Regions from separate parts of the Homo sapiens genome. Here all the other regions are reported to be linked to region 3. Evidence: microRNA targets listed by miRTarBase, many of them from high-throughput screens and not tested one by one. Region 3 holds a microRNA gene; each other region holds the end of a gene's coding sequence.
The links. The annotated mature microRNA hsa-miR-4695-3p reads UGAUCUCACCGCUGCCUCCUUC and lies in region 3 at 2,034-2,055, shown strand. An mRNA with a match to its seed (bases 2 to 7 or 8) in the 3' UTR can be bound and repressed. Matches are read on the target gene's strand: a 7mer-m8 pairs with bases 2 to 8, a 7mer-A1 pairs with bases 2 to 7 and ends in A, and an 8mer does both.

Region 1: miRTarBase lists MIEF1 as a target of hsa-miR-4695-3p. Seed matches in the 3' UTR shown: 7mer-m8 at 1,295-1,301.
Region 2: miRTarBase lists AK3 as a target of hsa-miR-4695-3p. Seed matches in the 3' UTR shown: 7mer-m8 at 680-686.
Region 4: miRTarBase lists CDKN3 as a target of hsa-miR-4695-3p. The part of its 3' UTR that is shown has no 7-base or 8-base seed match.

The regions. Positions count from the first base shown.
Region 1 is chr22:39,513,952-39,517,951 of GRCh38, reverse strand. It overlaps MIEF1 (mitochondrial elongation factor 1), which reads right to left. Exons shown (of 6, transcript NM_019008.6): 6 at 1-4,000. The coding sequence ends at 3,629. Among named protein-coding and RNA genes, the nearest start is that of ATF4, 4.6 kb to the left of the region's middle.
Region 2 is chr9:4,709,592-4,713,591 of GRCh38, forward strand. It overlaps AK3 (adenylate kinase 3), which reads right to left. Exons shown (of 5, transcript NM_016282.4): 5 at 1-3,505. The coding sequence ends at 3,385. Among named protein-coding and RNA genes, the nearest start is that of AK3, 30 kb to the right of the region's middle.
Region 3 is chr1:18,881,107-18,885,258 of GRCh38, reverse strand. It overlaps MIR4695 (microRNA 4695), which reads left to right and starts at 1,984; the gene lies at 1,984-2,057. It overlaps ALDH4A1 (aldehyde dehydrogenase 4 family member A1), which reads left to right. Exons shown (of 15, transcript NM_003748.4): 6 at 1,831-1,980; 7 at 2,061-2,135; 8 at 3,372-3,559. RefSeq lists a silencer at 899-1,130.
Region 4 is chr14:54,419,684-54,423,683 of GRCh38, forward strand. CDKN3 (cyclin dependent kinase inhibitor 3) reads left to right here. Exons shown (of 8, transcript NM_005192.4): 8 at 309-535. The coding sequence ends at 395. It overlaps CNIH1 (cornichon family member 1), which reads right to left. Exons shown (of 5, transcript NM_005776.3): 5 at 3,878-4,000. Among named protein-coding and RNA genes, the nearest start is that of CNIH1, 20 kb to the right of the region's middle.

The sequences.
Region 1 (4,000 bases), not on the chromosome of region 3:
TCTACCAGCTAACACATCCACCACCACTGCGGGCAGGCAAGTGACTAGAAGGCAAGTTGTGGACTTGGCCTCAGGGACCAAGAATTTAAAGACTACAAGGTGATCCAAATGTAAAGGTAAACACCTACTGTGCATTTGACCATGGAACCCACCTCTCTGGTATTCTGGCCACTTACAGTAAGTGGCATCTAAAAGGGCTGCAGCCTCCCAGCCTGGTGCAAGGGTCAGCTCTGTCCTAAGTCTCCTATCATTCTCCTTGGCCTTGAGTTTCAGACAAAAGGGCAGAGTTCTAACAAATCCTCTGACAGAACACGTTCTCAGCCAAGTCAGTCCCAAGGAAGTATCATGGCAGAGAGCTCTGGACACTCGCAGTAGTCTGTATTTACAGAACCCTCCCACCTCGGGGCCTCTCCTGGGTCCTTCCATCCTGAAGCTGATTCCCCTTCAAGACTATTTGAACTCTCAACTTGAGTGGAGTGCAGGGAGCACAGTCAGCAAATGTGGAATATGGACAGGTGGCCGGGACCCAGGAGACCGTGGGCCTCTGCAACGCTTCTTTAAACTTGAGCTTCAACATTTATTTAAATAAAACTTTAAAAGTCATAACCAAGCATGTAAAGAAAAATACTGTCATCTTCAGCTCATTTTTTAGGAAGGGCAACAGAGGAGAACCAAAATAAACTCTGGAATTTATTAGGTTTAAGATAATGAGTGCATTTTTTAAGTGTTAGGCTACGTATAAAGTTTGCTAACCTTGATGGCACACACACAAAAATCTCTAGATGGAGAAGTAGAAGATGCTGTTACTTCAGGCAAAAGTAAGAGTTACTGAACAGGAAGGCAGAGTAGTGGGGAAAGTTACTCATCTTTCCCCAAAGATTTAAAAAAGGGGGCAGGTGCAGAATGTTGTCCTCTTCTATCCAAGAATCTCAAAGCAATTGCCTATGTTCCACACTTTATGATGAGGAAGATGGCAGCAAAAAGAACGGCTTGCCCAGTCATGGTCAGCAAACCCACCAGGACCAGCGCTGAGAGTTCACATTGCTTCTGGTTCTGAGGACTTCTTAAGAGGTTCTTCCTTGTAAAATGACAAAGTTATGGTTTTGTCCAACAGTTAAAAGAGATGCTCTTTAAGAAGGATGATAAACTCATTTGCCTTCCTTAAATGACAATTACACTCAACTTAAATAACTTGGGACTCTTTAAAATCTTATCTTTTTTAAGCTCTTCTTCCAATTTTTATTTTTTTGAAATAGGGTCTCACTCTGTCACCCAGGCTGGAGTGCAGTGGCACGATCTCAGCTCACTGTAACCTCCGCCTCCCGGGTTTAAGTTATTCTCCTGCCTCAGCCTCCCGAGTAGCTGGGATTATAGGCGCCTGCCACCACGCCCAGCTTATTTTTATCTTTTTCGTGGAGACGGGGTTTCACCATGTTGGCCAGGCTGGTCTCGAACTCCTGACCTCAAGTGATCCACCCGCCTTAGCTTCCCAGTGCTGGGATTACAAGCATGAGCCACCGCACCCAGCCTCCTTCCAATGTTTTATGTGAAATTTGGTCAGAGATGCAAGCTTGGGAAAACTTAAATTTTTTTAATACTCATGGCAGGGAAACCAAATCCTTTATCTCAATGAATAATCTATACTTTTGCAACACTCTATCAATCCTCTCCTCTCCCTTACCTCTAACGGATACCCAGTGGGTACACAGGAACCCTGTCAAGCTCTACCCCATACCTTCTAGATTCATCCAGGATGGTACTCAGGCATACAGATTTTTTTTTTTTTTTTTAACTCTCATTTGAGTCTGACCAACAGACAGGGTAGATGAGCTCTCTCAAGATTCTCAGCTTTATGTTTTTTGTTCCCTCTCAATACCTTTATGCAAATGAAACTGAAACCACCATAAGAAATCCTTGTTAAGGGGAAAAGAGGCAAAAAGACCTCTAAATATAGTCAAGGTTAACCCTAGTTCTCAATTTCCTAATCTGTGACAAAAGAGGGGCAGGAATCTCTACCCTAAATTGATGTTGAGGTATCGATGCTAAAGAGTCATTTCCTGTTACTATCGTTGGGAAGGAATGAGACAGCTGCAGAGAGCTTCACCAGAACCTCAATGATGGAGAGGTAGTCATTGAAAAAATAAGACAACTTGACGGAAGGAAAACAAAATACTGAATGGGCAGATGAGAAACAGAATTATCATCAGAGTCTTGCTACAAACAGGGAAAAACACAAACCAAGATGACACACGGACATGGTAGATTAAACATTCCTCCCCACCTTCAGGATACATTTACATTGCAATAAATACTGCAATCTCAGCAGCGGCAAACAAGGAGGAATGTAGGAAATGCCCACCTCCTCCCCTCTGTCTTATCTGTGTGCTCTCTTCCTTGGTAGCACCGATCTCCCCAGGTGCTGGGTGAGAAACAGGACAGGGGGAAGAGGTCCGTGCATGCTCACTTGCCCTCTGGCCGTGCCCGGAGCGCTCAGCAAACACCCCTCTCACATTCCTATGGCAGACGCTGGAGGATGAAGGGCTGGCTGTTGGGTCTGTTCTTGCTCTAAGGCCACATCCTAGAAAAGCAGGGCCTGTCTGGGTAGAAAACATGGCCACCAAACCCCAACTAGTGACTGGATTTTCCAGCTGACATTCAGTCGACTGTCTACCTCCATCATCCTCACCTGATGTCTAAGGCTGCGTTCCTTCAAGGCCTTGTCCTGATTGGCAATAAAATAAGGAAAAGGTGTGAAAACCAGCATTCATGATGAAGTGGTGCCCTGGCAGTCCCCATCCTTGTCTGTCTGACCCCTGCAGCCACAGATGACGAGCAGACACTGGGCACACAAACCCTTCACTAGGCCCTTAACCAGCTCTGGTTCCCTACTCTGCACTTCTGCTAATAGCCACCAAGAAATTCAACCTGCAAATAACTTTGCATTCAGCTTATCCTGTGTGGGTCATTAACAGTGTTCCCATGAGAGACATTCTCAGCATTTATGAATGGGTCAGGAGGTTGGGGGGAGGATGGACTTCTACTCCAGGAACCGTGGTCAAAGGCCAACTCTTCTACCAGCCTCACTCCCAGAAACCCTAAATACTGTCTCAGCACTCGCTCTGTAGAGTTCAGCTTTGAAACATGCTATCACAGCTCTTCAGTGGCATTCAACTAAAAGGCAACATCTTAATTAGGCAGATATGCTCCAGGGACAAGAGCAAAACAGAAGGCATGAACGAGAGAGGAAAAAATAGAAAAGACACTGAATAGGAACAGGCAAACGGGCAAGGCAGACCAGATAGAGGCAGCAAACATGGGCCAAAACGCAAAACACCAAGTGGTCCATCAGCTCAGGCCAGCACGCCACCTTCTCAATTCATTCCAGAAAAATTAGCCTGGAGCCAGGGGGCGGCAGAGAGCACAGTGATTGGTAACAAAAATAGGAAGAGTTGGGTAACAAAATAGGAGACGAAAGAGATGTCATTCTAATCAGCATGAAGTGACCAGGGTGATGATCAGCAAGACACCAGGCAGCAGGAACCCTGTGAGGCACCAACTAGGTAGCCAAGTGTATCTAACGGAGAATCCAGGGCCTGACCACCAACACCCGCTTTGGCCTTCACCTGCCCTACGTCTGCAGCAGCACCTCTGGCTCAGACAATGAGCAATACAGAGTGTATCCTAATTCGTCTATTTCTTCAGGGGTGAGCTCTGCAAATAAGTTCACCTTGGGGTTTAGGGCACTGGGCAGGACTCCAGCCTCTAAGTAGCTGATAAGTCCCCTCAAGGCCTGCAGGAAACGGTCGGCCAGCATATCCGGAGACCAGTCAGCCTCCTCCTGGGCCAAGTGGAGGATGACATTGGTTAGCTGGCTGGCAGTGAGGTGGCCCAGAGCCGGGGTGGACTTGCATATGGCCTTGAGGATCTTGAGGCACAGAGATCGGCAGCCCGAGTCAGCCTGGTCCAGAGCCCGCAGGCGTGCCGTCTCCGCGGGACGCAG
Region 2 (4,000 bases), not on the chromosome of region 3:
TATGGAAAAATCAGTGTTTATATTATTTAGTGAGCTAAAAACAAATAAAAAGCAGGAGGGGGATAAGGGCTCTACAAAGCATACTGGCTTTTACCAGAAGCTTTAAGCACAGCTACACTATTTTAACTGTTTAAAAATTTTTTAACCATAACTTCCAAGATGAAAATCTTTAACTGCAAAGATAGAAAAGCTATTTCTACAGTTTATCAGGGCCTGAGGATTTATTTTTATTTTTATTTTTATTTTTTGGTCAATGAGAAGACACAACATATTCTAAAATACAAATTCTTGCTGTTGGTTGCAACTATAGCAATTTAACATAATTTGAGATCTATAATTACAATGATTTGTTGTTAGTATAGGGCAGTTTTGTCACAAGTTATGAGGATCCAAAATATCTTGCTAGAATGCCATTATATATAGCTGGGGGAAAAGTAGCCATAGGGTGGGGTTTAGAGATTTGAGCCAGTATTTAAACTATTTGAAATGGAACTGACAGAAATTTCTGGATGGTGCTAACAACTGCTAGTTTGCATTTCCCACAGTACACGCTGCTTACAAAAGGTATAGCAAAATAACTTTTACTCTATAAAATAAATCAGTTGAGGTGCTGTTCTCCCTGGCTTTTTTTTTTGAGACGGAGTCTCCCTCTGTCGCCCAGGCTGGAGTGCAGTGGCACGATCTCAGCTCACTGCAACCTCCGCCTCCCGGATTCACACCATTCTCCTGCCTCAACCTCCCGAGTAGCTGGGACTACAGGCGCCCGCCACCATGCCCGGCTAATTTTTTTTTTTTTTTTTTGTATTTTTAGTAGAGACGGGGTTTCACCGTGTTAGCCAGGATGGTCTCGATCTCCTGACCTCGTGATCCGCCCGCCTCGGCCTCCCAAAGTGCTGGGATTACAGGCGTGAGCCACCGCGCCCGGCCTCTCATTGGCTTTTAACAAAAGTATAGTAGTTTCTCCTAGCCATGGCATTCAGCTCCATACATGTATTTCCATGTGGTACATAAATCTTAATGATGGTCATTACAGAATTATTTTTTTGGGTGGGGGCAGTGGCTTACACCTGTAATCTCAGCACTTGGGAAGCTGAATCAGGAAGACTGTTTGAGGCCAGGAGACTAGCCTGGGCAACATATCGAGACGCCGTCTCTACAAAAAAATAAAATTAGCCAGGCATGGTGGTACATACCTGTAGTTTCAGCTACTTGGGAGGCTGAGGTAGAAGAATTGCGTGAGCCCAGGAGTTCAACGTTACAGTGACCCAATTATGCCACTGCACTCTAGTCTGGGCAACAGAGTGAGGCCCTGTCTAAAAAAAAATAAAGAAAAAAGTTGTATTACAGTCATATTCATTCCTAAAGTAATGAATGTATGTGCAAAACTTTGGGCTAAGTGTTTGCGGGTGGGGAGGGAATGGTCACAGGAAATAAGAGTCTTAATTCTCATAGCCATGTTCTTCCACTGCTCACTTTGATTTCCAAATCCCCTAAGGGTATTATGAAGGCCGGTATGGCTACCATAGCAGGAGATGAAGTATTGCATAAACTGAAACCAGCCTATGGACTGTTTTAAGATCATTTATTAGAACAGTCATTCAGAAGCCATTGAGACATCAGGCAGCAGAAAGGAAGGTGGGATGGAGCAGGCCCTGTGAAGGACCAAGAACAAAGTAATAGCCACAGTTATGAAATTTCATTTTATTCTGATAAAGACTAATATATGCTTGATAACCTAGTGATAATCCATAAGTTTGGTATTTCACAACATTTTTTAGAAAGCACATAAGATTAACATTCAAATAAGGCATTATAGAAAGTTTTATAAAGAATGAAGTGTTTCCTATATTTCTTTTAAAAAACCTTGGTTCATCTTGAAAGATCGATGAATTTTTTAAATATCAGAAGAAAAGGGAAATAAAATTTTCCCCCCAAAACACATAAGAACCACTTACTGGCACTTGTATTTTAAGTACCTGGGAAAAAAACGGAACAGATTTTTAAAGGCAATAACGACTTGTAAGACGGCTTGTTTCATTTGATTTGGCACGAAGTAAAGTAAGAGTAAATATGCCATGGAAGACATAATCAAGTTTTTCCTCCATCTCTCATATTTCCCCACTTCTACCAGACCACACAGTACATCAGCAACCATCCTTTAGATTCCAATTTTTAAATGGCTGCTCAGACGACACCAATAGAGTTCTTTCTCCTTAAAATATGGTGGCAGTGAATGCTAACAGGTATCAATTTCTTTGATCAGGAACAAAGAACTCCTTCAGGAAACTCACTTTCCTGGTCCTTGTTAACCTATCATGTAAATTCTTTTTATTGGTACACCTGTTTACTAATTATGATTGATTGCTATTTATGCCAAGGGAGCATTTCCCAGGCATGCCTCATCTATTTACTAACAACAAAGTATGCTTACTTTATTTACATAGTGCCACGGGTTTCTCTTTTTTCTTCTCTTTTTTATTGGCGGGGGAGATGGTACTATAACTTGTTATTTATCAGGGCAGATCACACATTTGGATCAAAAAGAAAAACCAGCAAGTAGATCCTAAAACACATTTCTTAACCTGAGTCATAACTGAAAACATAGACTTTAATTACATTTTGTTGAAAATTCATTCAACTTTGGTGCTTGTAAAAGCACTTATGTCAATTTTTGACACAAATCATAACCCTCAGTACACAGGTATTTTCAAAGGAAACAAGTCATCTTAAAGTAATATTTTTCTATATGCTAATTGATACATCTTTATAGCAAATTGAAAATTCTGAGTAAACTGAAAGTATGCTTAACGACAAAATAAATACAGCATATATGGTTAACATATACATTTCTTAGTGTAAAGGCAGCAGTGAATTTGTGTCTCACAATAAATCTGTAAATCCAGTTGCTTTCTTTCTGGAATTTTATATAGTGTCTCACCATGTTCCACAATGCTGGAAATGTCTTTTTTGGCATCAATCTATGCACAAATTTCTGATTACGTATTTTCTCCAAATGACATGTAACTTTTTTTAACTTTTCCAGAAAAATATGGAAACTTTATCAACCACTTATTAACTGAACAAAAAGTTAGATTACTACCAAATGCTCTTTTAATTTTGCTCTAACAGATGTTTTAAAGGTTCAGACATCGCTGATGTTTTTGAGGATAACTGCATACAACACACTAGATGATTTCAAACGATGCATCTTAGTATCCGAATCATTTGGCACATCCTTAGTATCCAAAATAAAATCAGTAGAAATAAAAGTAATATAATTTTCAAAGAATTCATACATACTAGAAGTCTTAGGAAAAGCAGCTTCTAAATGCAAGGACTAGGAGGTTTGCCCATCTTACTATTAATAGTTACACACATTTCTCCTCATGGAGTAACTGAAGCTTTCTGGCTTCTTTGTGGAACTTTAGTTTGTAGGAAAGCATATACATAGGGCCAAATCTTGTTGGTTTCTGTTCCGGAGAATGTTTCCAGCACCCCTTTTTTCCTAAAGATGAAACAAAAACAAAACAAACACACACAGGTCTGAGTCTTCCTAATAAGCTCTTTCAAAGCCTTTCTGTAAATAATGATATTGTAGATATAGGAGTCTTGGTAAGTATAGATTTGTGTAATCAGGAGAGAAAGGCACTTGGCTGGGCATTGGAAAATGTACATTTTGGTTTCAGTTGTGCTCTCTGGCTTACAAAAATGGGTGCTTAAAAAAATAACAGCACCTATCATTTATTTTATTTATTGAACATGCACTGTGTGTCAAAGGCTGTGCTACATGCTTTACATATTATAGTTTGTTTAATCCTTTCCAAAGCTCAAATTTTCTTATTTTACTAATAAAATCATCCCTTTGTAATGTAACTTAGCCCAAATCACCAAGTTGGTAGTACATTTCCAAACAGGACCTATAAGATACCAGAACACCCATCAGCCTTTTTTTTCTACTTACTCTTTTGCAAAAGCTACTTTCTAATACTTGAGTATCTTT
Region 3 (4,152 bases):
GGAAATGTCCCCTCTCCTCCATCCCTCTGTCCTCGCTCCTAGGCCTTTGTCATGCTTTGCCTGGACTGGTGGTGGCCTGCACTGTCTCCCTGCCTCCTAGCTTGGTCAGCCCCTCGCCGCCCTCAGAGTGGTCTTTCCAACACCTCCAGGATGTTACTCCTGGCTTATGACCCACCCAGACCTCTCCACCACTGAGAGGCAAGTCCCAAGACCTGAGCCCCATACCCAGGGCCCTTCTGCCCACCTCTGTCCAGCTCGCCCACTGCTCTGCATTTCCCTGCCAAGCTGTCCTGCCCATAGTGTAGCCATTTGGCACTTAGCAGGACTCCCCGGCCATGGCAGGCATCCTCTCTGCCTCTGCCCACGTGTCCTCCTGCCTGGAATGCCTGCTGTCTCTTCCGTGCTCAGTGAACTCTTACCTCCTGGTCCAGCCCAGATGTCACCCCCTCCGTGAGACTTCCTGAGCCTTCTCCAGCCGAAAGGACTATTCCTGCCTCTGTTTCCCCAGAGCATGTTGTTCCTGCATCAGTTACAGCTCAGATTGCACTGGAGTGTATTGAGTTCCTAGGTACTGCCCCTTTACAAGCTTTTTGGACATAGTAAACATGTCTTGACATTCTCGGTCTTTTTCTGGGCTTTGCATGATACCTTTCAGGAGGCATAGCAAGCCCCTGATCAATGGTTTTCTCTGCACAGAGCTGGCATGACAGCTCCTCACCCTGCTAAATGCAAGTTGAGTGAGGAGTGGCTCTAGCAGGCAGAGTGTGCGGGGGACAGGAGTCGAGGGAGAAAGGGTTATTTCACCACCTCCAGGACCTGAGCCCTACGCTGCCAACTAACCTGGGTTCCTGAAGGGTAAATTGCAGGAGCCAGAACCCAGGCTGCTTTCTGGATCAGGCATTTGCCACTGCCTGCTCCTCGGTCCCCATGGTGAGCGCCCCCTCTGCTGCACAGAGCTGGTATGACAGCCCCTCAGCCTGCTAAATGCCTTCTTAGATTGGCTCAGCAGCCCTCTGGGGTGGGCGTCAGCTCTGCGTGTTCCTGGTGAGCCGCACGTTGCTGGGAAGACAGTCTAGGATCAGTTTAGGCTTTCTCTGTATTTGGCCTAAGACTCAGGAACTTCTAGGAAGCAAGGTACACATCTTAGCTCAGCTTCATGGGCTGTGTGTCTCTAATAGGTCGTGCACCTGCCAGTGACCTTGGGTGCCAAGAGGAGGCCACGTCAATCTGGAAAAGCCCCGTTCTTGGCTGTCCACAGTTCTTTTCCCTGCAGCTCACATTTGCTGTTATTAAGAATTGACGGTTTAAGGGAATCACAGTCACTCGCCTCTTGGTTTTTGGCCCAAACTAACCAGCAAGGCCGAACATCATTCCTGGGGAAGGAGCCATCCACCTCCCACACACCGAGTCTCTCTCCTGGTTTTCCAGTGACCAATCTCCAGCTCATGCTAATCTGCCCTTCTGTCTGGAAGGCTCTGATCCTGAATTTAGTCTGAGGCTTGACCATAGATCCTTTGCCATGCACCACCATTCAGAGTTGCTATGAAATGAAGACAGTGCATGGCAAGTACCTGGCCTGCTACAGAGGATCACTAAAATTCTTCTGATCCCCGTCCAGCCCAGAGGGCCGGCTACAGGAGGTGCTAGCTCAGGGGCTTGAGAATCCTTTCCCCCTCAGCCCCTGGGATGGGACCTGGTGAGCCCTCCAAATGTTTCCTGGTCCCTCCTGGGGCCCGGCTCAGTGCTCGCTTTGGGCACAGCGTCAGATGTGAGAAGAGGATGGACAGGAGGCTGTTGGCTGCTCCTGACCCCCGGCCCTCTGCCTTGCAGGGTAAGACCGTGATCCAAGCGGAGATTGACGCTGCAGCGGAACTCATCGACTTCTTCCGGTTCAATGCCAAGTATGCGGTGGAGCTGGAGGGGCAGCAGCCCATCAGCGTGCCCCCGAGCACCAACAGCACGGTGTACCGGGGTCTGGAGGTACCTGCAGGAGGCAGTGGGCGAGCAGGCGGGGCAGCCCAATGCCATGGGCCTGATCTCACCGCTGCCTCCTTCCCCAGGGCTTCGTGGCGGCCATCTCGCCCTTTAACTTCACTGCAATCGGCGGCAACCTGGCGGGGGCACCGGCCCTGATGGTGAGATGTGGGCACAGGTGGGACAGCGGCAGCTGGTTGTCCTCCTGGTCCCAACAGACAGACAGAGGCCACCCTGAGCCCCTTGGGTCTCAGCCTAGTCATGGGGAGAGGCACAGAAGGTGGAGGCAGCTTGGGGCTGTGGGTAGGCTTTGGGACCAGAGACCCAGTTTGAATCCCAGCGTCGTGCCTCTCTGCCTGGGAGACCCTGGCAATCCCTGAACTTCTCTGAGGCACAGTTTCCTCATCTGCAAAGTGGAAATAATAGGAAAGCCTCCATGACTGGGTTGTGAGGCTCAAATGAGACACATCCAGCAGCAGGCAGGGCTGGCCCGGAGCTGGCTGAGTGTTGGTGGCTCTGTTGATGATCATTACCGCTGACCTTCAGTGCTCACCACGTGCCTGCTGCTGTCAAGCACGGCATGGAGATGATCTCATTTCATCCTCTCAGCAGCTTCGAGAGGGAGTTGTGACTCTGCCTCTTTGCCAGATGACAAAACTGAGACACACAGCCGTGACTTACTTGGCAAGACTGAGTGACTAGTAAATAAATGATGGAGCAGAGAAAGATTTGGATGTAGTCTCTCTCGGGGTTGATGGTATTCAAGTCACTCCTCTGCCATTATCGGAGTGAGGTTGGCTATTACTGGATGAAGTCCCAGGCCTGTGGGGGAGGTGCAGCCCAGCTCCCAGACAGCCTGGGTGGGAGAGGTCCACATAGTTGTCGGGAACCCCGAGCCCCAGACAGGGGCACTGGATGCTGATGCCGGAGTGTGTACTAGGGACATGGATGGGGACGTCCTCATGCATCTGTGCACAGACAAACACGGTGCATGGCCAGGCGCCCACGTGCCTGGCTGCTGCACATGCCTGACCCAGGACATGTGCTGAGAGAGCCCGTGTGTACTTGCCCCGCCGCGCCCGGTGAGCACTCAGTGACTCTAGCAGTAAGAACAGACCTGCCTAGGTGATGGCAGGACCGGTTGGTGCAGGCTTCTGGGGAAAGGGAGCCTTGGCCAGAGCGTGGGGCAGATTGGGCTGTGCCGTGGCCTCCTTGGCAGGGACTTTTGGAGATAGGGCCAGACGCCTTGGAGGAGTGGGGTCGGGTAGGGGATGTCCTGGTTGGCACAGAGTCTGGTGGTTCCAGGTGAGGGACAACCATGCTGTAGGGTAGGGTGGGGTGGGGGTTGGGGGCTGGTGGCGCCATCCTCATGCATCACTGAAACACCTCCCGGGCAGGGCAACGTGGTCCTATGGAAGCCCAGTGACACTGCCATGCTGGCCAGCTATGCTGTCTACCGCATCCTTCGGGAGGCTGGCCTGCCCCCCAACATCATCCAGTTTGTGCCAGCTGATGGGCCCCTATTTGGGGACACTGTCACCAGCTCAGAGCACCTCTGTGGCATCAACTTCACAGGCAGTGTGCCGTAAGTCCCTGGGGATGGTGTAGGCTGTGGTGGCTAGGGGACGTTCACCTGCTCACCTGCTGTCTGCCTGGGGATGGGGCTGTGAACCCAGGGGTCATGCACGGACTCTACTCCCTTACTTGCTGTGTGGCTATGAGTGAGCCACTTCACCTCTCTGAGCTTCCATTTCTTCACCTGTACAGGGAGTGATTATCCTTAATTTGCAGAGTCATTGCAAGGATTAAACATGTTAATGAACAGGAAAGAGCTTCGCAGACTGGAAGTGCACCCTACAGCTGTGGGTAATATTGATTTCAGTGCTACCTCTGCTACTGGAAAGGGCACAGGGGAGCACAGAATGAACTGGAGGAGTCAGGAAGCCTTCCTGGAGGAGGTGACATCTAAGCAGAGGAGTTGGCCAGGCAGAGGGGAAGAGGCAGGAGAAGAATATATATGTTGGGAGAGGGAATAGCACATACAATGTTGCCAAGCCAAAAACTTGTGCTCTGGGGCATGGCAGGATCCTGTGTGGCTGGAGTGTGGAGTTTGGGGGCGACAGGGCAAGAGAGTGAGGGCAGGGCATGGTTTGAGTTGAGGTAGGGGAGGCAGGCCAC
Region 4 (4,000 bases), not on the chromosome of region 3:
ATTATGTACTGTTTTAATCTTATTTGGTCCTGTAAGTAAAGAGAGAAAGAATTTTAGACTTAAAACATATCCATCTACATTTCATTTCACCTTCTGATTTTTAGAGACTTGTAGAACAATAGTTTTTCACACTATATGGCTTTACTAAAAGATAAAACTTCCCCATGATGCAAATGCTTCCTTACCCAAAAAGATGTAGAATTGTGCTTAGCAAGTATTTTTTTTTATTCCTGATACCTGCTAATATTGTGCCCACACTGATAACTAGTTTTCTACAGTGTATTCCAATGTATCTTTACTTTTTTCAGCAATACAATTATCTTCATGAGTTTCGGGACAAATTAGCTGCACATCTATCATCAAGAGATTCACAATCAAGATCTGTATCAAGATAAAGGAATTCAAATAGCATATATATGACCATGTCTGAAATGTCAGTTCTCTAGCATAATTTGTATTGAAATGAAACCACCAGTGTTATCAACTTGAATGTAAATGTACATGTGCAGATATTCCTAAAGTTTTATTGACAAAACTCGTTGTGTCTCTTTCATTTCTTATAGGAATAGGAAAATTGGGATAGGAAAATTGGTATGCAATTTTCCTTTTAGAAATGAATTGGTTGTTCTGGTATATTCTACCTGGAGGTAATGCTGAAAACATGCATTTGGAAAAATATTTGAATGCCTATTTTTAATACTTAGTACTGCACTTTTACTTCATTTTACTGTTTGTAACCACTGGGTAGCATATGACAAAGTAGTAAGTATGAGAATTGGTATGAGTGCCCAAACTTACTTTTAAATGATGTCCCCCTCCCTCTCTATTCCTCCCAAAACTTCTTCCGCTTTTTACTTCATAGACCTCCGGAATTGAAAAGGATCCTGTGAGTCTTCCACTCGCCCCCTCCCAGTACTGGATCAGCCCCAAGGGTGTTTATTCACTATGGGCTGGAACATTTTCAGAGACAAGGAATTCACTGGTTCAGACAGCTGCTCCACCTTTTGTCCGCCCTAGGAACTACACGGAATGAGCTTAATCCTTTCACATTTATTTCATAAAGAATTTAGCTACAGATTAACAATTTCCAACTCTCTCACTCTTTCACTTCCCCCTATACTATGAAACCTATCTTTTTTCATCTTTAAATTCAACTTTGAGTTACCCAAAACAGTCATTTGGGCTGTAGACAAGGATCACACACAATGTGTCAAACAAACACACTTGTTTTAACAGTCAGTGGTTTCAGTAGGGCTTACAGTAGTCACATGGCTCTCTTGGCTACTGGTAATTACAAGTGTGAACCAATGGCAATTTGGCAATGACCACCAGGTTGCAGACTCATAGGCACTTCCACAAAAGACAAAGTTTCACTACATCAAAATTTCATTTTTAAATAATTATTCAATGACTGGCTGGGCGTCATGGCTCACGCCTGTAATCCCAGCACATTGGGAGACCAAGGTGAGCAAATCACTTTAGGTCAGGGGTTTGAGACCAGCCTGGCCAACATGACGAAACCCCATCTCTACTAAAAATACAAAAATTAGCCAGGCGTGGTGGTGCACGCCTGTAATCCCAGCTACTTGGGAGGCTGAAGTAGGAGAATCACTTGAACCCGGCGGGGCAGAGGTTGCAGTCAGCCGAACCCAGGGGACAGAGGTTGCAGTGAGCCGAGATCACACCACTGCACTCCAGCCTGGACGACAGAGAGACTCTGTCTCAAAAAAAAAAAAAATCATACAATGACTAAACATCTTATTTTGTCTCACACTACTCTTCTTGCTGCTGATTAACTGCTTGAATTTCATTACAAAATAATGCAAAACAATGACCAGCCTGTTTGGGAATTTCAGAGCACTAGTATGTATTGTAATATAAAATCAATATATTAATAGAGTCATCCCTTGTTATCCTCAGAGGATTGGTTACAGGACCCCCCACCCCACCCCCAACAGCAAAATAAATGGATGCTCAAGTCTCTGATATAAAATGGCATAGTATTTGTATACTTTAAATCATCTCTAGTTACTTATAATACCGAATACAATGTAAATGATGTGTAGTTATTATACTGTATTGGTTTTATTTGTAGTATTTATTTTTCAAATAGTTTTAATCTGAGGTTGAGTCAGCGGATTTAGAACCCATAGATACAGACGGCTGACTGTACTTTTATACATAACGCTGCTTCTAGAACTTAACATTTTATGAGGATACTAAGGAAGGTAGGAGGATCACATATCCCAGCAGTATCTAAATGGTTAACCTAGGGATTTCATTTTCTCATATAATTAATACCAAAAGTTATAGCAAGAAAAGTTTTTTTTTGTTGTTTTTTTTTTGAGATGGAGTCTCGCTCTGTCGCCCAGGCTGGAGTGCAGTGGCATGATCTCGGCTCACTGTAACCTCCGCCTCCTGGGTTCAAGCGATTCTCCTTCCTCTGTCTCCTGAGTACTGGGACTACAGGCGCGTACCACCATGCCTGGCTAATTTTTTGTATTTTTAGTAGAGGCAGGGTTTCACCGTGTTAGTCAGAATGGTCTCAATCTCCTGACGTCGTGATCTGCCCGCCTAGGCCTCCCAAAGTGCTGGGATTACAGGCGTGGGCACCCGTGCCCGGCCCAAGGAAGGCATGTTTTTTAAGTACACACTGTAATAACAGATTGGCCTTCTTCATGATTTTTGTATTATAACCATACACAATTTAAAAATCACAATTTCTATTAAACTTTAGACAGTCATTGATATTTACATTAGCCAATCTTTTACAGTCCCCAATCTACAATGGTTCAACTTGGGATTTCTCAACTTTACAATGCTATGAAAGAAATATGTATTCAGTAGAAACTATAGTTCAAGTATTCACACAACCATTCTGTTTTCACTTTCAGTACAGTACAATGTTTGAGATATTCAACACCTTATTATAAAATAGGCTTTGTGTTAGATTATTTTGCCCAACTGTAGGCTGATGTAAATGTTATGAGTACGTTTAAGGTTGGCTAAGCTATGATGCTTGGTAGGTTAGGTGCATTAAATGCATTTGCAACTTACATTTTCAACTTATGATGTCCGGAGATAATTCCATTGCAAGTTGAGAAGCATATATATTATCATTCTCTCAACATAAATACATAACTTATTCATGAATACTTAGAAAATTGAGAGAAAATATTGGCATGGATTAATCAAATACTTTAATAATCAACTGAATTTTGAAAGTACTTGCATCTCTCAATTCCCACGGCAAGTGCTATTTAAGCCTCTACATTTAAAAAGCTTCAGTAGGCCAGGCGCAGTGGCTCATGCCTGTAATCCCAGCACTTATGGGAGGCTAAGGCAGGCAAATCGCTTGATCTCAGGAGTTCGAGACCAGCCTAGGCAACATGATGAAACCCTGTCTCTACTAAAAATACAAAAATTAACCAGGTGTGGTGGTATGCATCTGTGGTCCCAGCTACTTGGGAGGCTAAGGTTGGAGGATCACTTGAGCCCAGGGAGGTAGAGGCTACAGTGAGCCATGATAACACCAATGCACTCCAGCCTGGAAGACAGTGAGACCCTGTCTCAAAAAAAAATTTAAAAATTTTTTAAAATGCTCGACTAAACCACTTTAATATTAAGTATACGGGAAAACATCAACTATTCTATAACAAAGAAACATGAGATGTCAGTTACTAAAATATAATTGTCCAGTTAAAGATTCCAGCATTCCAGGGAAAAGTATTTTCTCTACCTAACCTGTGTGATATTCCCCAAAACAATGAGGAAAGAGGGCGGAGAGAGAATCAGAGTCCTGGTCATTCACAAACTAGTGGCATTTGAAATTGAATTAACACACAGACTCAACCATTATGCATAAACTACACAAGGAAACATTTAAGACAGCTTTTATTAAATACAAAAGCAAAATAAGCTCTAAGGAGTAAGGTAGGGCTACTTAAGGGCGTTTTCTGTGGACAGCGGACACAGCACCATTAAGGTTAGCTTAGATTTG